Homo sapiens: one gene and its partners. The protein of the gene in region 7 purifies or fractionates together with the protein of the main gene of each other region. This does not show direct contact. Each region holds a gene or a part of one and is shown on either strand. Other genes may lie near its edges. The genes, in order: SH3BP4, RPE, ZFAND3, LSM12, TBC1D2, MYO1E and DNM1.

Region 1 (4,066 bases), on a different chromosome or scaffold from region 7:
CACCGGGCGGTCCTGGAAAGTCGGGTACTTTGTAGTGGTGGCAAACGGGGACAGGATGATTTTCCCGACTTCGTTCTTCTTGAGAAACCTCCTTTGCCCGGAAGGCTTGATGGCACTTTTAGGGGGTGGCTGAGGAGTCTGGACACAAAACTGGGTGAGGATGGCCTCCTGGTCGTCCTTCACCTGAACCCGCAGCGTGAAGTCAGAGAGCTCGTTGGGGTTCTGGGAGGTGATGGGGAAGATCAGGCGGCTCACCTTGCCCAGCTTCAGCTGGAATCCTCGCACCACTTTGGCCTGCTCGCTGGCTTTGACCTCGTAATTCGTCATATTGGAAAACATACAGACCTTGAGATCCTGGGGCCTGGACAAAACGAACTGGTGCTTCCCCCACAGCTGCAGGGCCACCGGGGCAGGGTTGGGTGCCTGGCGTGTGACCTCGCTGACCAGGAGCGTCTTTGGGGCACAGTCATGCCCAAAAATGGTCACTACCGTCTTGAAGGATGGGTGGATGTGTTTAGGGCCGTAGAGACCCACTGTGACTTTTTTATTGATGAAGTCCCACACGGTGGAAGGGTAGAGGATGCTTGGGCCATGGGCCACGACAGCCACGTACATACAGGGCTCCAGGTTGTGCAGCTGTGCCTGGACCGTGTCCCCACAGCTGCAGTTGAGCGGGACGGAGACATATGGCCCTTCCTTCGAGTCGCTCCTCAGGCACTGGAGGCCCACTGTGCTTTTGCTAAAAAGGTCATTTTTTATCTCGGCTGACACTTTCATCTCCAAGATGATAGAGGTTTTCACCTCCAGGTTGCTCAGCTTGACCTCCAGCACAGGGCTGATGCTGCAGGACCTGTCACTGTTGAGCTCCAGCGGGGGGTCCAGCAGGGCTTTCATGGAGATCTGCTGGGTCTCCCCAGGGGCGACGTGGCCCTCGGGCACGTGGATGCTGATGCTGGTGTCAGGAAGCTGGACAGCACCCCCGGAGCTATCCAGCTTGCACACGATGTTTGTCTCCACGGCTTGGGTCTGGCCCCAACCAGGGCTTTGGCCAAGCAAGTCCAGGTCGTGGCAAGACCGGGCCAGCTTCCTGTGGTTTAGCCAGGCAGTTCGAAAATCCTCCCGGCTCTGAAATTGCTCGGGGGCAGGTGATTTCAAGCCGGTGAAGAAACTCGACGATGTGGGAGCATCGGACTTGGCTTGGAGGACGGAGAGTTCCGAGAGACTGTAGGAGCGCTTGCTTCTGAAGAAGGGGTTGTCCCGCCTGACCGGCGGCTCTGCGTGGAGTCCGTTTGTGACTGGAAGCTCATCGAAGATGTTGCCAGTGCTATTCGTGGTGGCTGAGCTGGATTCGGTGAAGGAGGATGTACCTGCGTCAAAAAGGAGCAAATCCACAGTACTTTTGGGATTCAGCTCATCCAGGCTGGGCATGACGGGCACGTTCCCATTCAGAAATGGATTGGTCTGGACCCCATTCCAGAAAGGGTTATTACTGTACATTCTGCCTGGTACTTTTTTGTCATCTGTCCATCCCCCGAGCAGCTCCAGCTCCTTGGCTACCTCGTCTGGGCTGTCTGGAAGATTATCAATCATACCGCTGTCACTCAGTGTTGAGTTCCGGTAGTTCAAGGGCTGCACATAGGAGGAGGGGATGTAGCCCATTTCGGTGGTGTTGTGTGCGTACCACCACTCACCGCCAGATGTGTCCAAGACGTAGAGATGGTCGCCCTTGGAGAACTTCAGTGTGGTGAAGTTGGTGGGGCAATAGTCCTTGATCGCAATCACTTCCTTTGCATTTCCGAAAGGTGTGGGGTTGTCTACGAGCAAGGCACTGGGAGAAGGCACTGTGCAAAACACAAAGAAAACAGATGGTGAGGGCAAGGCCGGCGGGGTGTCCGGAGAGCTTCCCAAAGGAGAGAGGACGGTGGTAAACAGACAGGTGCACAATAACCCAGGCAAGTCACCAACAGAAACAAACCAAAGTGAAATTCAGTAGGTAATTTACCTGGCCAACGAACTGGTTCCTGCTACTTGGTCACCTTCAAAATCGACAGCCTATGTCCGGCAGAAAGACCACAGAGGAGCCTCTCCATCACTCACAGAAAGGCAAATCAGTGCAATGGAATATTTAACATGCCCTACGCCCTAAACATCTCATTTTGGGCAACGTTAAAATTCTTCTTAAAAGAACTGCTACTAGATACAAAGAGAAACTGAATGTGATTAACTTAGAAAACACGGTGACACGGTGAGTTAGGTGACCACTGCATGTGATCAGGGACTGGAAATGAACAGATTCCAAAAACTCCCGCAATGACATGTATGAGCTGATTCCAAGCTCTGCCTCTGGATGGAAAGCTTCCCTCAACCTGCTTCTTAAATTTCCAAACTCAACCTGTTCCTCACCAAACTGTTTCCTCAGATAAAGTAAGAATTCTGAAGTCAGTTCCTTCCAACCTCTTTTATTCTTATTTTACTTATTTATTTATTTATTTATGAGACAGTGTCTCACTCCGCCACCCAGGCTGGCATGTATTGACATGATCTCAGCTCACTGCAACCTCAGCCGCTCAGATTCAAGTGATTCTCCTGCCTCAGCCTCCAAAGTAGCTGAGATTACAGGTGTGTGCCACCATGCCTGGCTAATTTTTGTATTTTTAGTAGAAATGGGGTTTCATCATGTTGACCAGGCTGGTCTCAAACTCCTGACCTCAAGTGATCCTCCCGCCTCAGCCTCCCAAAATGATGGGATTACTGGTGTGAGCCACTGCGCCTGGCCCAACCTCTTTTAAATTATCATTCAAAATCACAACATGAAAACAGACTGTCTACATACCTTGAAAATGAGAGATTATGCCTAGTCATAGCTCATACTATCATTGAACAAGTGTTGAAGCAGTCTGAAAAATTCCAACCCTTCAAAAAGTGAATCAAGTTAATTCATGGCTCCTGCCATTGAACTCTGTATGTTACCAATGTAGACGGCAAATGAAACAGCAAAAATAAGTCAGCCAAACAAGTGGTGTGTTTTGAAAAATAATGGATATGATTAAATGAGAAGATATATTCAGAAGATGAAGAACACTCTTTCTGAAGAAAATAAGCACATATACTTCTCCCCAGGACTCCCCTCCCCCACCTCCCAAACTGCCTCACTTACGGAGTCTGCTGACATTCTGGCTTCCCGTAATAAACAATTGAAAGAAAGAAAGGAAACGTTTCTTTCTTTCTTTCTTTCTTTTTTTTTTTTAAGTTGCCAAAGCAAATGACCAAAGAAAGGAATCCGTTTTTAGTTAAACTAAACCTACATCTTTTCTAATGTGATGAAGTCCACAGTCATCGTATTCTATCAAATTGCCCCCCCGACCCCAGAAAATCACCTGCCAGTTTCCTTTTCCTTTGAAAGGAAATAATCACACTTCCTTGGGAAAGTGTTAGGAAATCAGGTAGACAGTTTCTATTCATTTACATTAACTGGGTTACAGAGATGCGCTTAGCTGGGAGCATCCCTGGGCCTTGAAGCCCCACCTACCTCCTCCTGTGAAATTACAGCAGGCCCGTCTATCTGGGTGTCTCAGAGAACCCGGCTCTGGGATCACTAAACCCAGACTCGAGTGGAGCCCTTAGAAACTGTGTGATCTCCAGAGCCTAAGACTCCACTCATGGTGGACAAAAAGTGTATTTCCTCAATGAGCTTTGGAGAGGACAAAATGCAAAGACGTAGATAAGGCACTTGTCATAATATTGCTTGACCCAACTTGAGGACACACAGGATGTTATGTGAAATAGACATCTCCTGGCCCCAATGTTATCTTTTTCCATAGCTCTTACCACCAACCACTACATCATGTACCTGATGAGGTTCAGAACATGCTACCCCAAAATATAGCACCACACATATTTTAAGCTGGAGGAATTTGAGAAACCGCAGGTGCAGGCAGGACTCCCTGCCTGCCCCCTGAAGCAGGTCATAGACCCTCAAGTGGGAGGGGCCCTCCCTATATGTGGGGGACAGAGCATCCTATCTCCAAGGACACAGGGAATCTGCAATGCCCAGGCCTTGCTGTCC
Region 2 (4,066 bases), on a different chromosome or scaffold from region 7:
TTAATATACCTAACACACCAAACATCATAGCTTAGCCTAGCCTATCTTAAATGTGCTGGGTGGTAATTTTATAAAGGTTAGCTGCAGTGTGCACTCTGTAAACCCTATCAATGAGCTTTTCATTCTTTGTTACATTAAAACCCATTGTTTGTCTTGTATTTTGAATGGGTCTTTTAAGTACTGATTTACTGAGTTACACACATCTTACAAATAGTGACAGATTTCATTCCATAGTACCCCAAAATCACATTTGGTAAAATAACTACAGATCTCATCAGAAAAGCTTGTTAACTGTTGGGACGCTATCAAACCCAGAGTGGTAAGATACACAAGTTTTTTAAAATTCTAATTTTGGGAACAAAAACTGACAAGGTATCTTTCCTTGAAGAGACAGCCTCATTTAGTTAATATTTTTTAAATGTCATTAAAATAGCCAGGTCTGAAAAACCATAGTTGATCTGTCAGTTGTTCTTTCAAACAAACATAGTGTTCTGGAGGAAAGCAGCTAGTTCAGATCACACCTCTATGGTGCAAGTGGTTTTCCTTGAGAAAACCATTATGTTCCAGTATGCAGCAATGCAGCACAAGCACTTTATATGCACTTCCTACTTTGCCACACAAAATATTAAAAAGGCATGTATTCAGGGACCAAGATTTATTAATTTCTACTGCTTCATCAAGGATATTTATTGCAAATGCATGATGATGAAGAATAACTCCTGATACAGTCCCTGCCTTGAGTTGGTTAAGGCACCAGCAAACTAACTCATCAATGTTTTTGTACCATCAGTAGAAATAATGGCAAATAATTTCTTAGGATTATGAAAATAGTTTTGATATACTCTCATGGATGACCCGAAAGGGTCTTAAGGATTTGTGTGGGTCCTTATACAACATACTTGAGGATCACTGATTTAGACAATAACAGGAACAGACTTTTCCCATCACTGTATTTCTTAGACATTTATTTCTACTCAATATGAAAACTGAACAGTTAAGAATGTTAGCGTTACATATACAACACAACATGTAATCTAGGTCCTAGAATACATTCATGTATCAATTATCCAACAACCAAAATCCAAGAATTAAACAAATGTTTCTCAATATAAAAAACAAAGGTAGTCGGGCTCAGTGACTTACACCTACTATCACAACACTTTGGGAAGCCAAGGCAGGAGGATGGCTTGAGCCCAAGCATTCAAGATTAGCCTGGGCAATACAGGGAGATCCCATCTCTACAAAAAGTAAAAAAAAAAAAAAAAAAAAAAAATAGCCGGTTGTGGTGGCACACACCTGTAGTCTTAGCTATAGCTGTGGCGGGAGGATTGCTTGAGCCCAGGAGTTCAAGGATGCAGTGAGCTATGACTGTACCACTGTACTCTTGCCTGGGTAATAGACGGAGTCTGTCTCTTAAAGCAACAACAACAACAACAACAAAAAGCGAAAAACCAAAAAACAAGGGTCACAAAACCCAAACATTAAAGTGAATGGAGTTCATTTATCTTTTAGACCAAATTCTAGAAAGATTAATTAGCAAGTTTATCAACAAATTAAAAACAAGAAGAAAAAGCAGATTGTGTGTGGTGGCAGCAACACAGGATTGCTAAAAGGAAAGGCACTGACAGGAAGGGATATAGACAATAGTATGGTGTGACAATGGGAGCCCAAATAAAAGGGAGCGAAAAGGGGAAAAAAAGCAAGCATTAAAAAAATTCACACAAGCAAGCCAGAAGCGAGGATTCTGGCCATTGGTTGTACAGTGGGAGAAAACAATGCTATTTATTTCATCTACCTCTCATGGTCATGAGAACAACCGTAATTCATAGGAAAAGTCACGGTATCTGCTATATAAGCTAATCATGGCTTAAAAGAAAGTTTAGATAATCAGAGGACTATATCCCATTATATGGAAATTTCAAAATGGTGAATATATTGGTGGAACATTGTTTCCTCATGCCACATAAATGAGGTAATAATGTACATTTTCTTTGGTGAACTCAAAGTAGATAGATCCTACACAGAGGCTGGAGACTATATTCAACAGAATTTTCTGTGATATTGGAAATGTCCCATAGCTGCACTGTACAATATGTGACTACTGAAGACTTGCAATGTGATTAACGTGAATAAGAAACCGAATTTTTAAGTTTATGTTATTTAATTTAAAAAAAATTTTTTTTTTTTGACATGGAGTGTCACACTGTCACTCAGGCTGGAGTGCAGTGGAATGACCTCAGCTCACTACAATCTCCACCTCCCAGGTTCAAGTGATTCTCATGCCTCAGCCTCCTGAGTAGCTGGGATTATAGGTGTTTGCCACCACGCCTGATTAATTTTTGAATTTTTAGTAGAGACAGGGTTTCACCATGTTGGCCATTCTGGTCATGAACTTAAGTTTATTTAATTTTAATAGCTACATGTGGCTTATGACTACCATAGTGAACAGCACAGAGTCCTTCATAAAACTGGTCAGCAATATGCTGATTAAAAAGAATCTAAGTTCTACTAAATTGTAAGCTACGTTAAAAAAACTATTTATGGCTAGGCTGGTGGCTCAAGCCTGTAATCCTAGCACTTTGGGAGGCCAAGGCAGGTGGATTGCTTGAGCCCAGGAGTTTGAGACTAGCCCGGGAAACATGGCGAAACTCAGTCTCTATTTTAAAAAAAAGAAAAAAATAAATAACACTATTTATAAAAATGTGTAAAATTTCTCATGTTTAAGAGATCTGGCAGGTGAGACATTGCTAACTTAACATAAATCACTTGTAGGCCACTAAGTAATCTTAAAAATCTTAATTTACATTGTACTAGGACATTGGAGTGAATATTTAGGCACCACTTGTAGAAAGCTCCAATTTGCACAAAATAAATGGCTTCTGGACCATAAATCAACTGATTCATAAATTCACTTAACAATTACACTGAGCCCTGATCATGTCTATGCTTAGCTTTAGGAAAACCACAGTAAACAAACTGGATTCAATCCCCGCCCTCAGAGAGTTTATAGTCTAATAAAAGTAATCGCAGATCAAAGGAAGTTCTCAGAGGAAAATCAACAGGTGATAAGATAATTGGATAAAGGTTAATTTGGGAGAGGACGCTCAAAAAGGCCTCTCTGAGGAAATGACAAATGACTTGAGGCCCAAAGATGAGGCAGCCAGCCAAGCTACTACCTTTCCATGCAGATTAGCCAAGGCCCAGAGGCAGGAAGAAGTTTGGCTTGTTACTGGAGTCAGGCCAATGAAGACCCAGGATAGGAAAGTTGGGGAAAGGGTGCCAGATGAACTTGGAAGTTAAAATCAACCATCCAGTTTTCCTTTACTTGAGCAACACATCCAGCTTCAGATGGCGTAACACCCACTTACCAAAGAAAGGGTCCTGGCCTAGCTGCTTTCGAAGGCTTTCTACCACAGGGTGACCAAAGGTGATGTTGGGAACAAAATGCCTACAAGACAAACAAAATCTACTCTGAAAATGTTTTCAATTCAGTTTCTGTATCTCTCTCAATATGAATTCTGACACAGGTTGAGGGGATTGTCTGCAATGTTTTTCAATTTAATACTTAATCATCAGTATTAAATAATACTAAAAATAATGGGTCATTTTGGTTTTACTAGGCAATGTCTCCTTGACATTTCAACAAATCACGTCACATATATTTTCATAATGATTTGACTCCGTAATTCACGACCCATGACAAGTAGAAATGGAGAGATGATAAAATCAGAAACCCTCAGGCTTTATGACTTGCCCAAGTCACACACTAGTTAGTAAGTTCTGGACTCTAATATTGATCTCCTGAATCCTAGTCTATCTCAGGAGGCCTGTGGCTACTTCTAATCACTTCTATCACAAGGCACTAAATGACAGTTTCTTTAAACTTTCTTAAAGATGACTAATAAAGAAACATGATGTGTTTATTAGTAACGACCACCTTTCACCGAGGGTTTACTACATGCCAAGCATCGTAATTTACTTCATTTCATCTTCACGACAGCCTTACAAAGTAGATGCTATTATTATCCCCTTTGAAGAGCACAAGATAAATAAAATCCTTAAGTAA
Region 3 (4,066 bases), on a different chromosome or scaffold from region 7:
AGAAATGGGAAGGGAAGATGGGCTGTGAGGAAGTGAAAAACCTAATCTCAGTCTTTAAAACATACCTTTGGGGTTTTGGGTACTCATCTCCTGAAGGGCATATGATAATTTTATTATGACTCCTGACTTCTGTGTGTTCTGCGGCTCTTTAAACTGTCTTCTAGTCAAAAATGTCTCCGCAGAAGCAGCTTCTGCGTTGCTATCCGGAGGACCAAAATCTGATTGGTAGATGATAAGAGTTGGCCCCAGGAAGATTTCTGATGCCGTATGTTTTTTGAGCATACTAAGGACAAAGACCTCAAAGCTCAGGTGCACTCCCAAGATGGTCAGCCTTCCTGATCAGCCATTCCAGATTTCCCAATCTTGTGTTCCCAGGAGGAGAGGGAGACTAATGCTTAGGAATTATACTGCCTGGCAGTTTGTGAACAACTGACTTTTTAAATGTTTATGATCTAGGACATGGCATCCTAGGAGTATTTCAAGCTAGATTCGTCTCCATATCAAATGAAGATGATGGCATTCTCCACAAAATTTTAATAATCAGCCTCTTGAACCTTGTTCTCTGTCCACACAATGGCTTTTCAACAGATGTGTTACTCCAAAATTATTTTAGGGTCATTGGGAACATTAAGAAAGGAAGGGAAAATTTCAGTCAAATGAGGTGGGAATTTTTTTTTAATGGGTAGCAAGGTGTTTTCTCAAAGTCTTTCATGGCACACAGAGTAAAATGTCAGGAGAAGATGAATCTAATCCCAGCATATACCCCGAAAGCAAAGCATGAGGAGAAACACAGAAAGTACCTGTAAAGCAGGTTTTTTTCAAGTCTCTTTTATCAGTTTTTCCAGTGAGAGTGTGGTATTTTTCGTGGACAAAGGTTTTACCAGCTAAAAGCTCCTTTTAAGTGGTCGAAGGAGAAACAGCAGTGATGTGTGAGGGTTCGTTAATTATTGCTCTTACTGATGTTTGCACAGGCTGTTGGGATCATAAATGTCAATCTGTCAAGAGACTGATAGGTTCTAAAAAAACTGATTGAGTACCTCAAGAGCTGTCATAGAGCCTGAGATTAAACAGATTCATCTTTCGTAGAAGTAAGGGACGGTGTGGGTGAAGGGAATAGCAGAAGGCTTTCTTCTCTTTGTTGCCGCATTGCTTCTCCCACTCTCCTATTCTGTATTGTGAGTGTTGGCTTGTACGGAGGCCTAAAAGCCTGTCTGCCTGAGATGTCAGGAAGCCACAGCCATGGTTAGTGCACGGGGTGTGTGCAGGCTGCCAGCTGCAGGGTGACAGGAGATTAAGAGAGATTGAGATTCAGCTTTGACAGGCATGACACAATTTATTTGGAAATTTTCAGGCGGGAACATGAGTAATAAAGACAAGAATGACAGTAAGGAACAAATGTGAATTTCTGCCAGAGACAAAACAGAATTTTAAAAGAAGTAGCTCTGTTTGTTGTCTCCAGTTAAGCTTTCCAGTTAAACTGTGTTCTTAAATTGAAAGTCTTAACACTACTTTCTGAGACTGGCTAGGAAAGTACAATTAGAAGAATTCCTCTCTTCAGAAGATTCCATGTCTTTAAAATTACTGTACAACCAGCCCACCATATCCATGGGTTCCACATCTGTGGATTCAACCAACCATAGACTGAAAATATTTGGGAAAAAATGGATGATTGTGTCGTACTGAACATGTAGTTTTTTTGTCATTATTCCCTAAATAATACAGTATAACAACTATTTACATAGTGTTTATATTGTATTAGGGATTATAAGTAATCTAGAGAAGATTAAAGTACAGTTGATGCTTGAACAACATGGGTTTCAACTGTGCAGGTCCACTATGCACAGATTTCCTTCTGCCTCTGCCATCCCAGAAACTGCAAGACCAGCCCCCCACTCCTCCTTCGTCTCCTCCTCAGCTAGTCAGCGTGAAGACAACAACGATGAAGACTTCGATGATCCACTTTCACTTAAGGAAGAGAAATTGTGTTTTCTCTTCCATATGGTTTTCTTAATTTTTTTTTCCTGTAGCTTACTTTATTGTAAAAATACAGTATGTAATACATAAAACATGCAAAATATGTGTTAATTGTCTGTGTGTTATCAGTGAGACTTCTGGTCAGCAGGAGGCTATTACTAGCTAAATTTTGAGGGAGTCAGAAGTTATATGAAAATTTTCAGCTGTAACAGGGGTCAGCGCCCCAAACCCCATGTTGTTCAAGGGTCAGCTGTATACGGGAGGATGTATGTAGCTTATATGCAAATACTTTGCCATTTTATATAAGGGACTTGAGCATCTATGGAATTTGGTATCCTTGGGGGGTCCTGGAACCAATCTCCCTTGGATACCGAGAGACGGACTGTGCAGTACTTGTCTCTCTGTCGAAAATTAAGCGCAGTTACTTTCAAACCAAGAAAGCTAAATAGGCAAAATCCTTCTTCTTAAGATTTTCCTTCCTTATTTAATCACATTATGATTCTTGATCAGACTTTCCTTTGACTAGATCTGATGTGATATCTTTCTCATTCTATTAAACATTGGCAGAGAAAGCAGGGGTCTGGTGAGTACCAAGAGTTGTGAACGTGGAATGGGGGAGCGGCAGCTCTGTGTGGGTATATCTACTACACTAGATTATGTTCTCAAGTAAAAGCATACTGGAAAAAAAGAATCTGCTTTGTTGGCCCTTTATGAAGGACCTTAATTAGAAGTCACTGTTAACTCCTGGGGTGGGAATGGTTTCCAGCTTGGCACGGGAGTTCCTCCTGCTACTAATGAGCATGCTCCTTGCAAGGACTCGCTGCTTCTGACAGTTAAAGCTGCATTGTAAGAGTTATTTCTTGTCACCTCTCTCTCCACATTTAACTGTTACTGCCCAAGTTCAGAGTATGTAAGTAGACTGTTAGGTGTTTTCAGGAAATTGGCAATGCTTCACGGTAACAGGGAATGATATTTGTGAGTAAAAGTAAATCATTACAGGTTAATTTATTCAAATATGGGTAGTAGATGGTTGCTTTAATGTCAACCATGTTTGGATTTTTTTTTCCTGGTAGTCTTTTTCTAATTGACATAAAACTTACAAATGAATAGTTGAATTATTTAATTCATTATCATGTCGTTAGAACCCCTGCCCTGGACATCTGTTTCTCTTATTTAAGCAACTCGCCCTGTGGCACAAAGGTTTCATTAACTAATTAGCAGAGGAAATGTAAATTTCTTATGCAAGTGAGGATGATTCTATAGATTACTATTTATTTCATTAGCTTCTCATTAAAACACTAAGTTGACTTGTGAGAAAATGCCGGAGAATGGTTTGCTTCTCGAAGAAATTACACATACACAGTCACCTTCTTGGGCAATAGCTTGTGGAGGATAGTGAGCAGTTTTGGAAGCTTATTTACCCTCGCTCTTGGTGGCAGGGAGCATTAGAGAGCATCTAACAGATCTTCATCTAGGGAAGGGTAAGTGGGCATATTCCAGAGCTTCAAAGGTGTGGATCTCTTGCTATCTGGAATAGTTCTTTGATTCTAAAACATAACACATTCTGTTAGACATTTCTTCTGCCTTGCTTTAGAATCATCTAGCATTGCTTCCTGGGGCCCAGACTTCCTGTACATGGATGCCTTTGGTCATAGACTTGTACGGATGCTGGGACATTGATTGTCAGAGGATCGAGTAGGGCTTAATGGTGTTCTTTTAGGATGATCAGTATATCATACCAGAAGCTGTGGCAGCATCAGAAACCTCCTTTAGGATTCATTGTTCAAGAATATTCCATGCCTACTGCCTACCAGAACAAATAACTCAGTGGTCTTTATATTAATGTGGAATAGATCAAGGAAAATCTCAGCATGGGATCATGTAGACATTCCTTAGTGTTGCTATTGAATGCCCATTGGTCAGGTAAGATGGGGAATTAAGAGAAAAAGAGGTCAAGACTGCACAGGCCTCCTAACTTTGCAGGGCAGGGGTTGGGGGGTCCCATCAAAGTGGGTTGTTTGGTGATGACTAATGATTGTGATTATGTAAATATGAATTCTATTTCTCAGCCATAGGACTCATACATTTAAAA
Region 4 (4,066 bases), on a different chromosome or scaffold from region 7:
ATTGGGAGGCATGATGGCGTGTGCCTGTGGTCCCAGCTACTCAGGAGGGTGAGGCAGAAGAACTGCTTGAACCCAGGAGGCAGAGGTTGCAGTGAGCTGAGATTGCACCACTGCACTCCAGCCTTGGTGACAAAGGAAAACTCCTCTCCAAAAAAAGAAAAAAAAAAAATACAGCCTGGTACAGTGGCTCACACCTGTAATCCCAGCACTTTGGGAGGCCGAGGCAAATCACCTGAGGTCGGGAGTTCAAGAACAGTCTGACCAACATGGAGAAACCCTCTCTACTAATAATACAAAATTAGCCAGGTGGGGTGGCACATGCCTGTAATCCCAGCTACTTGGGAGGCTGAGGCAGGAGAATCACTTGAACCCGGGAGGCAGAGGTTGTGGTAAGCTGTAATCGTGCCATTGCACTCCAGCTTGGGCAGCAAGAGTGAAACTCTGTCTCAAAAACATAAAAAAATAAGACGGACGTGGTGGGGCGCACCTGTACTCCCAGCTACTCGGGAGGCTGAGACAGGAGAACTGCTTTAGCACAGGAGGCGGAGGTTGCAGTGAGCTGAGATAGAGCCATGGCACTCCAGCCTGGGCAACAGAGTAAGACTTTTTTTTTCTTTTTTTTTTGAGACGGAGTCTCGCTCTGTCTCCCAGGCTGGAGTGCAGTGGCGCGATCTCAGCTCACTGCAAGCTCCGCCTCCTGGGTTCACACCATTCTCCTGCCTCAGCCTCCCAAGTAGCTGGGACTACAGGCACATGCCACCACGCCCAGCTAATTTTTGCGTTTTTAGTAGAGACGGGGTTTCACCATGTTAGCCAGGATGGTCTTGATCTCCTGACCTCGTGATCCGCCCGCCTCGGCCTCTCAAAGTGCTAGGACTACAGGCGTGAGCCACCGTGCCTGGGTGAGACTTCATCTTAAAAAAATAAATAATAATGTGCCAGGTACAGTGGCTCACGCCTGTAATCCCAGCACTTTGGGAGGCGGAGGTGGGCGGATCATGAGGTCAGGAGTTCAAGACCACCCTGGCCAAGATGGTGAAACCCTGTCTCTACCAAAAATACAAAAATTAGCCAGCTGTGGTGGCAGATGCCTGGAATCCCAGCTACTCCGGAGGCTGAGGTAGAGAACTGCTTGAACCTGGGAGGCAGAGGTTGCAGTGAGCTGAGACAGCACTACTGCATTATAGCCTGGGAGACAGACGGAGACTCTGTCTCAAAAAAAAAACAAAGTAATAATAATAATAATAATACATAAAGTCAAAGTTTCCAAGAACCTACCAAAGACGTTAAGTGAGAGCCTAGTGTAATGGCATAAATCTTCTATGGGCCCTTTGTCACAATGCCCTCCTTCCCCTGCCTTATCTCATCCCATAATTCAATGAGCATTAGTTAGCTACAATAAAAAAATCTGGGCCGGGCACAGTGGCTCACGCCTGTAATCCCAGCACTTTGGGAGGCTGAGATGGGGGGATCATGAGGTCAGGAGATTGAGACCATCCTAGCTAACACGGGGAAACCCTGTCTCTACTAAAAATACAAAAAAATTAGCTGGGCGTGGTGGTGGGCGCCTGTAGTCCCAGCTACTCGGGAGGCTGAGGCAGGAGAATGGCGTGAACCCAGGAGGCGGAGCTTGCAGTGAGCCGAGATCGCGCCACTGCACTCCAGCCTGGGCGACTGAGCAAGACTCCGTCTCAAAAAAAAAATAATAAATAATAATAATAATAATAATAATTTGGGAGACATTAACTAACATCTGCCAAGTCTAATGACTTTAAAGACTGATCTACTTGGTTCATTCCTAAGTCTTTTCTACTAGACTACCCTGCCCCTGACCACAGAACATAGATGTTTTTCTTTACTTAGAAACGTTACCTAGGGGCTGGGCCAGTGGCTCATACCTGTAATTCGAATACTTTGGGAAGCCGAGGAAGGAGGATTGCTTGAGCCCAGGAGTTACAGACCATCCTGGGCCACACAGTAAGACCCTGTCTCTACAAAAAAAAACTAGGCTGGGCGCGGTGGCTCACGCCTGTAAACCCAGCACTTTGGGAGGCCAAGGCGGGTGGATCATGAGGTCAGGAGTTCGAGATCAGCCTGGTCAACATGGTGAAACCCCATCTCTACTAAAGATACAAAAAATTAGCCAGGCATGGTGGCGCACGCCTGTAATCCCAGCTACTTAGGAGGCTGAGGCAGGAGAATTGCTTGAACCTAGGAGGCAGAGGTTGCAGTGAGCCGAGATCACGGCACCACCGCACTCCAGCCTGGGCAACAGGGCAAGACTCCATCTCAAAAAAGAAAGAAAAATTAGCCAGGTGTGGTGGTTTGTGCCGGTAGTCCCAGCTACTTGGGAGGCGAGGTGGAAAGATCACTTGAGCGAACCCTGGAGGTCGAGGCTGCGGTGAGCTGTGACTGCATCATTTGCACTCCAGCCTGGGCACAGTGCGAGACTAACTAAAAAGAAACAAAACAACCACCCAGGTGTGGTGATGGGAGATTGTAGTCCCAGCTACTCAGGAAGCTTGGGCGGATCACTTGAGGCTATGAGCCAGGAGTTCGAAGCTGCAGTGAGTTATGATCATGCCACTGCACTCTAGCCTGGTCAACAGAATGAGACTATATCTCTAAAAAACAGAACACACACACACACATACACACACACACGAAACATAACTTAGCATTGTACATTATTCAGGGTACTTCATGTTGCCAAACTATGAGTTCCTTGGGCTAAACACAAAGTAATAGAAAAACAGGGGACTTGGCCAGGTGCAGTGGCTCACGCCTATAATCCTAACACTTTAGGAGGCCGACGCAGGTGGATTATCTGAGGTCAGGAGTTCAAGGCCAGCCTGGTCAACACGGCAAAACCCCATCTCTACTAAAAATAGAAAAATTAGCCGGGCATGGTGGCAGCAGGCGCCTGTAATCCCAGCTACTCAGGAGGCTGAGACAGGAGAATCGCTTGAACCGAGATCACACCGGGCAATGGACTGAGACCCTGTCTCAAAAAAAAGAATTCCCCCTACTGCAACCCTACTGTCCTCTCTCAAGCTTCCTCTTACATGCTACTGCTGGAGATAGAAATAAGACTTCTTAGCCTGAAGTGAACTATCATTCGAAAGCAAAACAGGCCAATTTCCAAGAAGTTGCTAGTTTATACCTTCCCTAGTTGAGCTATTATTAAGTATTTCCTGTATAAGCCCTTCTCTTCCATTTCCTGCTAGGTCAGAGTCAACAAATATCCGGTTTTTATCAACAGGTTTAATTAAGCAGATCACTTACTATGTCAGCAAGATGGGCCAATATGTGATGATACCTTTGACTAAAGTTAGAGTAGGCCGGGTGTGGTGGCTCAAGCCTGTAATCCCAGCACTTTGGGAGGCCGAGGCGGGCGGATCACAAGGTCAGGAGATCGAGACCATCCTGGCCAACATGGTGAAACCCCGTCTCTACTAAAAATACAAAAAAATTAGCCGGACATGGTGGCGGGCGCCTGTAGTCCCAGCTACTCGGGAGGCTGAGGCAGGAGAATGGCATGAACCCGGGAGGTGGAGCTTGCAGTGAGCCGAGATGGCGCCACTGCACTCCAGCCTGGGCGACAGAGCAAGACTTCGTCTCAAAAAATAAATAAATAAAATAAAATAAATAGAGTAGGCTAGTGCTTCTCCAGACTGCAAGCAACTGAAACTTCAACAGTTTTCTTCCAGACATCCCAGAGTACATTAGTTCCCTTCCATATGCTTAAATGATCCTCCATCTTAAGAAAAACTCAAGTCCGTGATCTTAAAAATGAGACTAACTTTTCACGTCATTCATGCAACATGTTAATAGCTGCCCGAAATAGCTGTTTTCAGCAGTAGCCCAAAAGGCTCTCTCTAATTCTAAGTCAATCTCCAAAAAGGAATCGCAAAGCATCCTAAAAGGTTGATTTCAAGGGAAAGCCAATATAGCTTACTCATAAACATCTCTGCAAACGGAAGAATGAATAAACGAAATCCAAAGATAACCCTCCAACCTAATTTTAGTTTTTAGTTTCTGACTCCTCTTCCCAGCAAACCTCTTT
Region 5 (4,066 bases), about 30 Mb from region 7:
TTGTCCATAAGCAGCTGCACGTGCTGCTGTAGCTCCTGCACCTGCTGCTCCCGCAGGCTCGCTGTGTGCGCCAGGCTCTCCCGCTCCTGCTCCAGGGCCTCCACCCGCCGGCCCAGCTCCGCGATCTGCCGCACTTTGTGCCGCACCAGCTCCAGCCGGTCCTTGTCCTCAGCCGCCGCCAGGTATGCGCTGGACGCCCGCTTCTCCTGCTGGGCGGCCTCCAGTGCCTTGTGCAGGATCTTCACTAGCTCCTGGGCAGGGAGAGGGAAGAATCTTGTGAGCTCAGGGAGGGCCTGCTGGGCGCCACAGTGGGGTATATGTTATCAGTAGTTCTCCTAACAACCGTGAGAGGTGCCCAGCAGCATCCCTGCGGCATCTCATCCTGACACTCACTTTCTCCTTCTCTGTTCAAGTGACTGTTAGCTGGGCACATGGTTCCCCAGCTTAAAACTGCATCTCCCAGCCAAGCCATGGTGAGGTGTAGCCAAGTAACTATTCTGCCTAAATGGGAAATGAAAAGTGAGATGGGCAGCTTCTGGGTCCTACCTTTAAAACCACTAGATACACGCTCCTCTGGTCCAGTTCTCTTTGCTTCTGGCTGGGAAGTGGCAGGAACTAGAGTGGCCGCCTCAGACCCACAGCAGAAGGTACATGTTGAGAAAGGGCTGCCCCCCAGCTCAGAGTTGCTCACCTACCTCTGGGTTCTTTAATGTGAATGAGAAACCTCTCACTCGTTTTGGGCCACAGTGCTTTGAAACTTTTTTTTTTTGAGATAGCGTCTCCCTCTGTTACCCAGCCTGGAGTGCAGTGGCACAGACATGGCTCACTGTAGCCTCAATCTCCTGGGCTCAGCTGATCCTCCCACCTTAGCCTCTCAAGTAGCTGGGACCACAGGAACATGCCAACACACCAGGCTAATATTTGTATTTTTTTGTAGAGAAGGGGTTTTGCCATGTTGCCGGGCTGGTCTCAAACTCCTGGACTCAAATGATCTGCCCACCTTGGCCTTCCAAAGTGCTGGGATTACAGGTATGAGTCACCACACCCAGTGGAGATGTTTTTGTCACAGCAGCTGAACCCATACCCTGACATATACACATCCATTTCAGGGATGAACAAACTGAGGCCCAGCAGAGAGTAGAATGGAATTCAATCTCAATTGGCTAGATTCCAAAGCCTGTGCTCAGTAACTAAGAAAACCAGGGGTGGCAGCTATGTGGCATTACTCTTCCCTCTCATCCCTGTGGCAGACATCACTAATTAATCTCCCATACTTCTTCCTGCACAGCCTACCCTAGTTGAGGCCTCAGAATCATTCTCAATATAGCAGCCAGTCACTACCAATCAAGTTGAGTCAGGGTTAAAGAGGAAATACACTGGCAATCCCCATGTAAAGCCACACACAGAGGACCTCATTCAAGCCATTTGTGCCTAGTTACCTTCAGCCCACCAGCCGATGCCTGCAAAGCTGGTGGAAGGAACTCTAGAAAGTTCAGAAACAATAGAGCTTGATTTATTCCTCAGCAGGGGCAACTAATTCACACAGGAACTCAAGGTCTGCTCAGCTCCCTGTGCCTTTAAGCCTGTAATTTCCCCAGGGAGGGCCACGCCTGGACTCAGGCCTATCTGTCCCAAAGCAGGGATGTGAATTTGTTCTGGGCCAGGATCAGGACATCAGCAGCCAGGTCCACGTGGAACTAATACCAGGTAGGTATGACTTTCAGGCAACACTGCCCTGCTCTGTGCTTCTCATTTGGAAAAACATGGTTTCCTAGAGACATGTCAACTATACCACACCAAAGTATTAAAATGAGTGGATTGGCTGGATAGCCTTATTTGCTAAGAACAATTCTATATTGGAGGAAAACTGCCAAAAACCATGACTTTTTTGGAGAAGCTAATGACAAGACCACATTAGCCTGCATCTTCTGAAACCTTAGGACTAGTGACCATCCTTTCTCTGGTTCTCTCTTTTCCTTCCACATGCCCATCCATCCATCCAACCTTTACCAAGCACCACTCGGTGCCAGGCCAGGCCCTGAGCCAGGTGCCGTGGCCCAGAGAGGGAGTGGTGAGAGTTCCCACCTCCAAGGACTGCAAAGGCTGGTGGGAATGAACATGACCCACCACAGTGGAATGATCTACTGCAAGTCAGGGGAACAAGGGTGTTTGTGGGAAAGGCAATGACTTCTGTCTGGGGTGGAGGTTGTGGGGAATACCAGTCCAGAGCATTTAAAAGAAACTGTGAAGAATGAGAAGGGCCAGAGATGGTCGAGCAGCAGGTGGGAGATGAGGGTGGGGATGGCCCTCCAGATGTGGCCAAGCTACAGCCCCAGTAAAGACCTGGAGGAAGGAAAGAGCTACCATGGAGCTGTGGGAGCCCTGGGGTGTGGCAGGAAGTTGGGGTGAGGACAGCACAGTGATTGCAAACCAAAAGGGAATGTTTGGAACGTCCAGAATGAAGAAGTCAGCTTCTCAGGGCTCAGTGGAGAGAGATTAACATTCCTGTGGTTCCAGGAAAACTGGGGGCCTAGGCCATTTTCTGCTTCAGCTGAGATTTGGAGGTTACCTTGGATGACTGCCCAGGGAAATAACCAACAGACATCATTGTTCAGACTTGCCCTAGGAGCAGGACCAGTGGGTGTCTTTCCCTCAATTTGGGGAGTTAGTTGACTCTGAAGCTTATTTCATTACATCTAGCTGTCTCCTTCCCGCATTTGGCTCCCAGAATCTAAGACTGAGACACCAGCCCAGGAGGCTCTCCTCCCACCCCCAGAATTCTTGTACCAGAATAAAATAGGCTTAAAAGAACGGAACCAGGGCAGAGGGAGGGAGCCTCAGTAGGACTTGTAAGATGAGGAGTGAGAATGTCATGAATTCAAGAAACCTAAAGTCTGGATTATAAGCAATGTCTTAGGACCAATTCTTAAAAATAGGTTGGGCCGGGCGTGGTGGCTCACGCCTGTAATCCCAGCACTTTGGGAGGCCAAGGCGGTCGGATCACGAGGTCAGGAGATCGAGACCATCCTGGCTAACATGGTGAAACCCCGTCTCTACTAAAAATACAAAAAAATTAGCCAGGCGTGGTGGCGGGTGCCTGTAGTCCCAGCTACTCAGGAGGCTGAGGCAGAATGGTGTGAACCCGGGAGGCGGAGCTGGCAGTGAGCTGAGATCGCACCACTGCACTCTAGCCTGGGCGACAGAGCGAGACTCCATCTCAAAAAAAAAAAAAAGAAAAGAAAAGAAAAGAAAAATAGAGGGGTTGATGAAATTAAGCTTTTTGAAGTGTTTTTTTTTCTTTTCTTTTTTTTTTTTTTTTTTTTGAGACAGGGTCTCACTCTGTTGCCCAGGCTGGAGTGCAGTGGCGCAATCACGGCCCACCGCAGCCTCAACCTCCTGGGCTCAAGAGATTCTCTTGCCTCAGTCTCCCTTGTAGCTGGGACTACAGGCATGCACCACATTGCCCAGCTAATTATTTTATTTTCTGTAGAGACAGGGTCTCCCTATGTTGTTCGGGGTGGTCTTGAACTCTTGGGCTCAAGAGATCCTCCCACCTTGGCCTCCCAAAGTGTTGGGGTTATAGGTGTGAGCCACCATGCCCGGCCCAAGTGGTACTTTTAATATTTCTCAATCGAGTTGTTTGGTTCATCTCAGATTTTGATACGTGGTCATAAGTTGTCACTTTATTTAAATTTTTAAAAGCCAATAAATCATCTTTAAAAAATAATCCTTTATCTTTTTAGAGCATTGCTACTTTCATCAGTGGTGGGCCCTACAGGGGTCAGATGAAGGGGCATGGGCTTTGGAGTTGCACAGGCCTCGGTTCCCATTCTGGATCCGTGGGGGGTGTATCTAACGAGGTGACTCTAAGGAGGGTAGCTCAGGTGGCCTCTTCATTGAACCTCAGCTTTCTCATGAATGGGGCTAAAGCTTCCTCTTCTGCTCAGAACTGCCTCTAGCATGAAAGAGAAAGTGCCAAGTGTCCCTCCCCAAGCTGACATGGCCAAGGTACCTCCCAGCCCTCTTTCATGTCCTCTGAAGTTTTTGGCTGGAGTTCTAGGAAAGT
Region 6 (4,066 bases), on a different chromosome or scaffold from region 7:
GGGTAACACGCTGAAAGAGAACATTAAGAAATAGATTAGGTCAAAGGAAAATGTTTTTACTTTTGGATTCTTAAGCAAGTCAATTTGGCATGACTATGAGTGAGCAGATAATGATCTGTGCATGACTCTTGGATAAAACTTCAGGGAGTTAAACAGCTTTTTGGAAAGTGGAGTTTCCTCCCTCTTTAGATCTAAGTGGTGACTCCCTATTTGGGACTATTAATTGCATTCTTGCCTGAAGGGGAATACTGACTTTCAAGATGGTATCTTAAGTCTGGGGAGCTGTTTCCTTGCCTAAGAAAGGACCTGATAAGCATTGTCTGTTTTGGAGAGGTCAGTGACTAGGGCCTTGCCTTCTTGCTCCCATCAGAACCCTCCTGGCATCATGAGCATCCTGGATGACGTGTGCGCCACGATGCATGCGGTGGGTGAGGGGGCAGATCAGACGCTGCTCCAGAAACTTCAGATGCAGATTGGGAGTCATGAGCACTTCAACAGTTGGAACCAAGGCTTCATCATTCATCATTATGCTGGGAAGGTATGGCCAATATCCATTTTAATGTCTATCTGTTTTAAGCCTTTGGGTTTGTGATCTGGTTTCTCATGAAGCAAATCATATGGCTCGCCGTATTTTATTGATTCAACAAACGGAATTTATTAACTATCAAAGGAAGCAAAACAAAAGATTGTATATACTACTGCATTTTTTTGTATGTACATTTATTTTTACATTGTAGAAGAAGCTACTACTTTTTTACAGCATATAAATGAACATAGGTATAAACCAGCAAGAATGAAAGAAATAGCATATATCTAATGAAAAGAGTCGGAATTTCTAGAACACAATAAATACCTACATCCTACTTTTTGGGAACCAAATGCCAACTACATATATATAACATGGCAAGTGCTGCTACATCAGAGGTACCAAAAATACTTAGGAATTGTAAATAAGTATCGTCCAGCACGTGGATGCTCAATAAAAGAGCTGGAGGACTAAATAAATAGGAAAATCACTCTACCTACTTTCCTGTTTCCATCTTTTAGGAATTCAAGTTTATTCAAAATTTCGTTATATAATCCTGTATCTATGATCTCTTCAATAATTTCGGAATGGTAGTTTTAGGCAACTTTAAAGCTTAAGCTTATTCTGAATTTCCCAGAGTGTTTTTGCACTTTTTTTCAGATGGGCCTCTTCTTCAGGGGTCAGCTTTATCTTTATAAGGTTGGTAATACCGTTCTCTCCCAGGATACAAGGAATACTGAGGAATACTTCTTCATCTATTCCATAGAGGCCCTTAATTATGGTGGAAACTGGATGTATTCTCCTAAGATTCTTCAAAATACTTTCTGTTAAATCGGCCACAGATAGGCCAATGGCCCAAGAAGTATAACCTTTCATTTTAATAATCTCATAGGCAGTTGCAGTCACTTCTTTGTGGACATTTTTCCATTGCTCAGGATCTTTATCAGTTCCTATATCAGAGTTCAGATCCTTCAAAGGGACACCAGCTATGTTCACTCCACTCCACACAGGAACACTTGAGTCTCCATGCTCTCCGAGGATCCATCCATGGCAGCTTTCAGAATGGATACCAAGCTTTTGTCCAATCAAGAAACGAAAACGAGCAGTATCCAGATTACAGCCGCTTCCAATAATACGGTTTTTGGGAAATGCACTCAACTTCCAAGCTACATAAGTTAAGATATCCACTGGATTGGAAACAATAATCAGTTTGCAGTGGGGGCTGTACTGGACAATACTGGAAATCATTAACTTGAAGATGGCCACATTTCGCTGGACTAAATTAAGGCGCGTTTCTCCCTTTTCTTGGCGTGCACCTGCTGTGATAATCACTAGGTTGGAGTTTGCTGTGACAAAGTAATCTTTGCTACAAACAATATTTGGCATTTTCGTGAAAGGGCTGCCATGTTGAAGATCCATCGTCTCACCCTTCAGTTTGTCTTCATCAAGATCCACAAGGGCAAGTTCATCACTCAAGCCTTTTAATAAGATGCTGATAGCGCAGGCCATGCCCACCGATCCAGTTCCTATGATGGAGACCTTACTGTGATGAACGGGCTTCTCGGAAGTGAAACGCTCAATAAGCTCACTCTTCACAGTCGCCATCTTGCTCACGGGGGTGAAGAGCCAGGTGCCGTTGAGCGGGATGCGCGTTGCTTGACGCGGACACAGGGCCATCCCCAGGCATAGGAAATTCGCTCCCACCGAGCTCACTCTCTGGCTGGCCCGCACAACAGGCACAGTCCAACTCATGGCTGCTCACTGAAGAAGTGGAGAGAGAGAATGGAAAAAAGCTGCTGATCCGAACGTTGAGACGCCAAGAGAGCCGTTGGCAGGACCTTCAGCACTCTACGGCAGGTGCGCGTGCCCCGCCCCCTGGCCCTCTACTGCGGCTGCGCGGGCCTTGCCAGAGTCTCCGACACGTGCTTTCCGTGGGTGCTCAGACTAAGGCAGTGAAGGGCTGCTTCTCTAGCAAGTGATTTCTGGAGTTAGTTTTGCTAAGAGTATTATCAATAGTTGACATGCTTAAGAGGCTAACCGAGATCCCTGGAATTACTAGTTTTTTATTTTTAATATGAATGCTGAGGAAACATGCTTCTGTTAACTACAGATGAAAATAAGGTTACGTTTTCTGAACCGTGACCCTGCCAGGAAGGATAGGGCTCTATGCTTTGCGTACTGGTGGCTGCCTGCACCATCTCCCAGTGTCCCAGAATTGGGCGCCTGCTTTCTGGTCTATGGCGCTGGAGGCCTATTTTGAAAGGATTCCACTGCCTTGGTGCCAGTCCTGGCCAGGACCCACCCTGGGACAGTCGGCTGGGGCTTCAGCAGGGTAGGGGCCGGCTGGGAGTCACTCCAGCACTAAATCTCAGCATACTACTGCATATTTTTGGAAAATGAATCACCCTGCTACATGTATTAGCTGCTGAATAAATGGATTTTCGTCTTGCCTCTTGCTGGAATCACAGACTGGCATTCCTTGTCTCCCCATGCCTACTGGTAGTATAAATCAAGGCCCAGAGTGCACTTTTGGTGTTCTTATAAAGCCCATCAGTATTGGGTGCCTACTGGATGCCAGGCTGTGTGGGGCTGCTGATGATAAAAAAGTTAAGTTGAGGTCGTGGTCTTGGGGACTTCCTAGTGCTATGGAAATCCCCTGGTCTCATCCATCATCCCAGCTGATCTCTTGTTAAACAGAGTATCTGAGCATGAGTTTCTGGCCAGATTGGTGCAACTTTGATACCACTTCTGGGAGAAACTGCAAAGCCTCAGATGACATGGCTCATTGCAGTGAATTACTGAGCATGAGGGGCTTCACTTTTGCTCTGGCTTAGCTAAAATTTAGGAAAAGTATTGAGTATGTCACTTAGACACCCCTATGGATCCACTGAAGAAGGGGTATGGGGACTTGAGAGCTGGAGTTCTGATTACGGATCAGCTGGGCCATCCAGGCAGCCAGATACTCATCAGCATCTGCAGGCCTTCCCCACTAAGTCAGCTAACAAGTAAGACGTGCACAGCCTTCCTGTGACAGTGCACAATGAAATCCCAAATGCAACATCTGGAAATCCACATGTTGTGGTGAGGGTAGCCATGACAGCTTTGGTTTTTTGTTTGGTGAAATTAGATTTTTTGTTCAATAAATGATTTTGTTCAATTAATTACATTTTGTTCAATGAAATTCGATTTCTTTCCATTCTTGGCCAGGTATCCTATGACATGGATGGCTTTTGTGAAAGGAACCGGGATGTGCTTTTTATGGATCTCATCGAGCTTATGCAGAGCAGCGAGCTGTAAGTATGTTTTGCCATAGCTGACAGGGGATATAGGTTTGATGAAATTTTCAATATGAAAACAAACTTATGAGCTGGGTGTGGTGGTGTGTTCCTATAGTCCCAGCTACTCAGGAGGCTAAGGCAGGAGGATCACTTGATCCTAGGAGTTTGAGGCTGCACTGAGCTGTGATCACTCCTGTCAATAGCCACTGCCCTCCAGCCAGGCAACATAGGAACACTGTGTCTCTAATAAAGAAAAAAACAA
Region 7 (4,066 bases):
ACAGCAGATTTCATCGAGTACTTGCTTGTTGAGTGGTGGAGCAAGGTTTGGACCGTGCCCCAGGAGGCCTGGGCCCTCTGGCTGCCCTCTCCACCCCAATGCCCTTGGCCGTTGTCCCCACAGGAGGATGTGCAGGGTGTCCAGATGCAGGCCCAGGGCAGGGGAGGGGGCTTAGGTTGATGTGAAGGAGTAGGCAGAAAAGCATTCATGATCCTCTGAAAGCTAGTGAGAAGGCCAGGGAAACTGAGGCTCAGTGGGTTCCACTGTCTCAGCCTGCCAGCTCCCTCAAGGGCTCCTGACCTCTCCAACAGGGCTCAGTCCCCAGACTGGTGAGCATAGTAACAGCCATTCTGTCTCCTGGGGCTTCCCAGGAGCCAATCCCCAACAGAAAATGCTTCACAGGAAAATGCATCAGGGCTGCCCCAGGCCCACCCGGGCTTCTGGGTGCTCAGGAGGATCCTGCTGTCAACTCTGCAATGGAGGTAGCCTTGCAGCTGCCTGGGATGCTGCTAGAACTTGTCTGGGTCTATACTATTTCTTCACCCCCTTCCCTTTTACAGAAGGGAAAACTGAGGCCAATTCATTCAGTCATTTAGCAAACATTTGTGGAGGGTGCACGATGTCTCAGCACTGGGGATTCTATGGTGGAAAAGACCAAGACTCTGCACTGCAGAGGGAGAAACTCAGAAGACAACTGGAAAATGTGGTGAACGTCAGGGAGGGGAGTGGGGCTGCTCTCCCCAGGGAGGTCAGAGGTCTCCAGGAGGAGGTGGCATCTGAGATGAGAACCAAGGGATGAGAAGCTGTGTAACTTGCCAGGGGCGGGAGAGTTCCAGGCCAAGGGAAAGGTGCAAAGGCCCCGGGGTAGCAAAGAATTTGGTGCCTTTGAAGAACAGAAAGGAGACCCTGTAGCTGGTATTCAGCTAGCAAGGGGGAGACAGGACCTGAGAGATAGGCAGGGGCTAGATCTACAAAGCCCTTAGGCCATGAGGAGTGAGGAGTTTGGGTTTATTTTCTCTCTTGTGGGAAGCTTTTTAGTAGTGGAGTGATGAGCTAATTCTAGCAAGGGTGTGACTTGGGGAGCGGGTGAGGGAAAAGGCAGGAGACTGGTGGGGAGGCTGCTGCAGTGGGCAGGGGGTAGTGGGGGGCCTGGACAAGGGCTTCAGCTGCAACCAGAAGGAGAATGGTGGGTGGGTTTCAGGATATATTTTAGAGGAAGTCCTGCTGGAGGATGAATGTGGAGGGTGAGGAAAGAGGAATCAATGATGACTTCTGGGACTTTGACCTGAGCTCCTGGGTGGGTGTTGGTGCCATTAACAGAGTCGGGAAGAGTAAGGAGGAGCAGACTGGGGGGATGGGGGAAGACCAGGGTTTGGTTCTGAACATATTGAGCCTGAGATGCCTGTTAGACTTCTAAGTGGAAGATGTCAGCTGGCAGTTTGGTGATGCAAGTTGAGAGCTCAGGGGGAAGACGGGCTGGAAGTAAAAATTTGGAAGTCGTTGGTGTAGAGATGGGATTTAAACCCGAGAGTAGATGAGCTCATCCTGGGGGTAAGTGTAGATGGGGGAGTGTTTGTGGACCCAGCACACACCAGCCTTTCATGAACAGATGCCTGGTGCCCTAGGCCAAAGGGGCCTCCTCGCTGTCCCTCCAGCTCCTCTTTGTCACCCCCGCCCCGCTACACCCCCCACCCCAGTGCTCCTCTAGGGCCAAGAGTGGGTTGTCCTAGGGCAGGCCAAGTCTGGTGGGAATGTGGCAGAGGGGCCGAGAGCATGGTGTGGAGTCAGACCTGCCGAGTATGAAGCTCAACTCTGCCACTTACAAGCAGAGAAACCCTGGGCATGTTCCCCAAACCCTGCCCAGCTGCTATTTCCTCATCTGTAAAATGGGGATAATAATAGCACATCCCTTGTGAGATTATGGTGAGTGTTGAAACAATCCCCAGGAAGCACTCGGGGCAGGGCCTGGCATGGAGGACGCGCTGCTTCTATCCCTGCCTGGGCGTAGACAGGCAAGCCCTCTGGGATGGCGTGGGCTGGGAGGTGCACCAGGATGGGGGCACGGGTTGGGGATCTTCTCCATCCAGGGTAGGGTAGGGGTCCTGAGGAGCGACCCTCTGCCCAGAGCCGAAGGAGCAGCCTGGGAGGAAGGGTTTTAGGTTTCCCCGTAACTCTGCCTACCCCCCACCCCCAGGCTTTCTGTCTCCCCCAATGCCCTTGTCCCTTCCTCCCCATTCTTTTTTTTCTTTTTTTTTTCTTTTTTTGAGATGGAGTCTCACTCTGTCACCCAGACTTGGAATGCAATGGCGCGATCTCAGCTCACTGCAACCTCCACCTCCCAAGTTCAAGTGATTCTCCTGCCCTAGCCTCCCAAGTAGCTGGGATTACAGGCATGTACCACCACGCCCGGCTAATTTTTGTATTTTTAATAGAGATGGAGTTTCATCATGTTGTCCAGGCTGGTCTCAACTCCTGACCTCCAGTGATCCACCCACCTCAGCCTCCTAAAGTGCTGGGATTACAAGTGTGAGCCATAGCACTCAGCTCTCTGCTCTGCATTCTATCCCAGCATGGACGTGATGCTGGTCTCTGGACTCTGAGAGCCCTTCTCTTTGTCAAACCTAGCCTTTCCCAGGGGAGACAGCCCCCTCCCCACTATTAAGCTCTGTCTCTTCCTCTGAACACACCAGGATGCATCATAGTGGTCCCATTTCTCAGATTTGGAGATGGAGGCCAAAGTCTATTAGGGGATAAATGAGACATCCTAGGCAGAGTATCGATGACCTGGATGGGGCAGAGGGAACTAATATTTCCTTGGCACTTGCTGTGTGCCAGGCCCTGAGGATACAGTTGTGAGTCAGCCAGACCCATCCTGCTTGGGGAGGCTTGCGGCTGATCGGGGCAGACAGACATGAAATCCACAAAGAGCACGTTTGTCGTGTATTTTGAAGGAGGCTGCTCCTGCGTTGCAAGGAGCCTGACATTGAGGGGAGGGGGGCTTTCTGGGCCATCAGAAGGCCTCCTGAGGAGGTAGCATTTAAGATTGGACCTGAGCAAGACTAGGACGTGGTCAAGCCAAGGTGTGGACTTCCGCAGGTGCAGGGACTGTCCTGAGCAAAGAGTTAGGGGGAAAAGAGCCCAACGGGTTTGAGAACCCGGATGAAGGATGAAGGGCAGTGTGGCTGAGTGAGGAGCAGAGGCCAGAGGTGAGACTAGGAGGGTTGGGGAGGCGGGGCTTGAGGGGCCTGTTAGGGGCCCTTTGACACCCCCCCACCCACCTGGAGAGCTGCCACACTCTGCTCCAGCCTCTGCATGCTCAGAGCACGCAGCTGCCACGTGCTAAGCACACACTGCCTGTGGGCCACATGTGGAGCACACCCCTGGGGCTGGAAACATGGAAATGCACCCATCCACAGCCAGAGGACATCCTCTCCAAACCCACACCCCACCGTGGCCCAGAGGAGCTGGGAGTGAAAGGTGACCCTGGCAGACAGCATCTGATCTCGGCGCCAGGAGAATTGAGTTTCCCAGGCCCTGGCTGGGTCAGAGGGTCGGACCCAGGGAAGGGGGTGCAGGTGGGAGAGTGGAGAGGGTGGGCAGGGCAGGAGTGGAGGAAGTGGGTCATGGACACAGTGCTGTCAGGCGTGGAGAAACGGACGCCCACATGCCATATGTCTATGTATTCCAGTTATAAATCAAGCTGAGGAATTGCTAAATGCAATACATTCTGCCCTCCCACCATAACAAACACACCTTCATCACAACCTGACCAGCTGGGTTTGAATTCAGAATTTCAGACTCCTTGGAGTTCCGTGGTGGATGTGGAGGCGTGGGGACAGGTGTCCCCTCTCCGCAGGCTGCCCCGTCATTTCCCTCTTTATCCCTCCAGGGTTCACTTGTGAACACCCCAGCCCTCATATCCCAGCTCCAGAAAGGACCCACCTTGGGCCTGGGCTGGTCCCCACTTGGGCCTGGGCGGTGGGCTTGGAACTGCTTGAGAGGGAATTCTGGGGCATCTGAGCGTAGCCTACGAGGGGAGCACAGGCTTCAGCTGGGCACCTCCCCT

What was found.
Region 1: the proteins of DNM1 (region 7) and SH3BP4 purify together in Homo sapiens (affinity purification with western blotting; one study listed by BioGRID). This does not show direct contact.
Region 2: the proteins of DNM1 (region 7) and RPE fractionate together in Homo sapiens (co-fractionation; one large-scale study listed by BioGRID). This does not show direct contact.
Region 3: the proteins of DNM1 (region 7) and ZFAND3 fractionate together in Homo sapiens (co-fractionation; one large-scale study listed by BioGRID). This does not show direct contact.
Region 4: the proteins of DNM1 (region 7) and LSM12 fractionate together in Homo sapiens (co-fractionation; one large-scale study listed by BioGRID). This does not show direct contact.
Region 5: the proteins of DNM1 (region 7) and TBC1D2 fractionate together in Homo sapiens (co-fractionation; one large-scale study listed by BioGRID). This does not show direct contact.
Region 6: the proteins of DNM1 (region 7) and MYO1E purify together in Homo sapiens (pull-down; one study listed by IntAct). This does not show direct contact.

Annotation. Positions count from the first base shown.
Region 1 is NC_000002.12:235,038,663-235,042,728, reverse strand, and holds part of SH3BP4 (SH3 domain-binding protein 4), read right to left. Parts: intron 1,842-4,066; coding exon 1-1,841. UniProt on the Homo sapiens protein: May function in transferrin receptor internalization at the plasma membrane through a cargo-specific control of clathrin-mediated endocytosis.
Region 2 is NC_000002.12:210,009,039-210,013,104, reverse strand, and holds part of RPE (ribulose-phosphate 3-epimerase), read right to left. Parts: intron 3,449-4,066; coding exon 3,369-3,448; intron 1-3,368. UniProt on the Homo sapiens protein: Catalyzes the reversible epimerization of D-ribulose 5-phosphate to D-xylulose 5-phosphate.
Region 3 is NC_000006.12:38,109,637-38,113,702, forward strand, and holds part of ZFAND3 (AN1-type zinc finger protein 3), read left to right. Parts: intron 1-4,066.
Region 4 is NC_000017.11:44,056,544-44,060,609, forward strand, and holds part of LSM12 (protein LSM12), read right to left. Parts: intron 1-4,066. UniProt on the Homo sapiens protein: Nicotinic acid adenine dinucleotide phosphate (NAADP) binding protein. Confers NAADP sensitivity to the two pore channel complex (TPCs) by acting as TPC accessory protein necessary for NAADP-evoked Ca(2+) release.
Region 5 is NC_000009.12:98,220,978-98,225,043, forward strand, and holds part of TBC1D2 (TBC1 domain family member 2A), read right to left. Parts: intron 252-4,066; coding exon 1-251. UniProt on the Homo sapiens protein: Acts as a GTPase-activating protein for RAB7A. Signal effector acting as a linker between RAC1 and RAB7A, leading to RAB7A inactivation and subsequent inhibition of cadherin degradation and reduced cell-cell adhesion.
Region 6 is NC_000015.10:59,205,153-59,209,218, reverse strand, and holds part of MYO1E (unconventional myosin-Ie), read left to right. Parts: intron 1-370; coding exon 371-538; intron 539-630; exon of another isoform or gene 631-1,132; coding exon of another isoform or gene 1,133-2,278; exon of another isoform or gene 2,279-2,376; intron 2,377-3,733; coding exon 3,734-3,819; intron 3,820-4,066. Other genes in the region: LDHAL6B (L-lactate dehydrogenase A-like 6B), read right to left, coding at 1,133-2,278. UniProt on the Homo sapiens protein: Actin-based motor molecule with ATPase activity. Unconventional myosins serve in intracellular movements. Their highly divergent tails bind to membranous compartments, which are then moved relative to actin filaments.
Region 7 is NC_000009.12:128,205,813-128,209,878, forward strand, and holds part of DNM1 (dynamin-1), read left to right. Parts: intron 1-4,066. UniProt on the Homo sapiens protein: Catalyzes the hydrolysis of GTP and utilizes this energy to mediate vesicle scission and participates in many forms of endocytosis, such as clathrin-mediated endocytosis or synaptic vesicle endocytosis as well as rapid endocytosis (RE).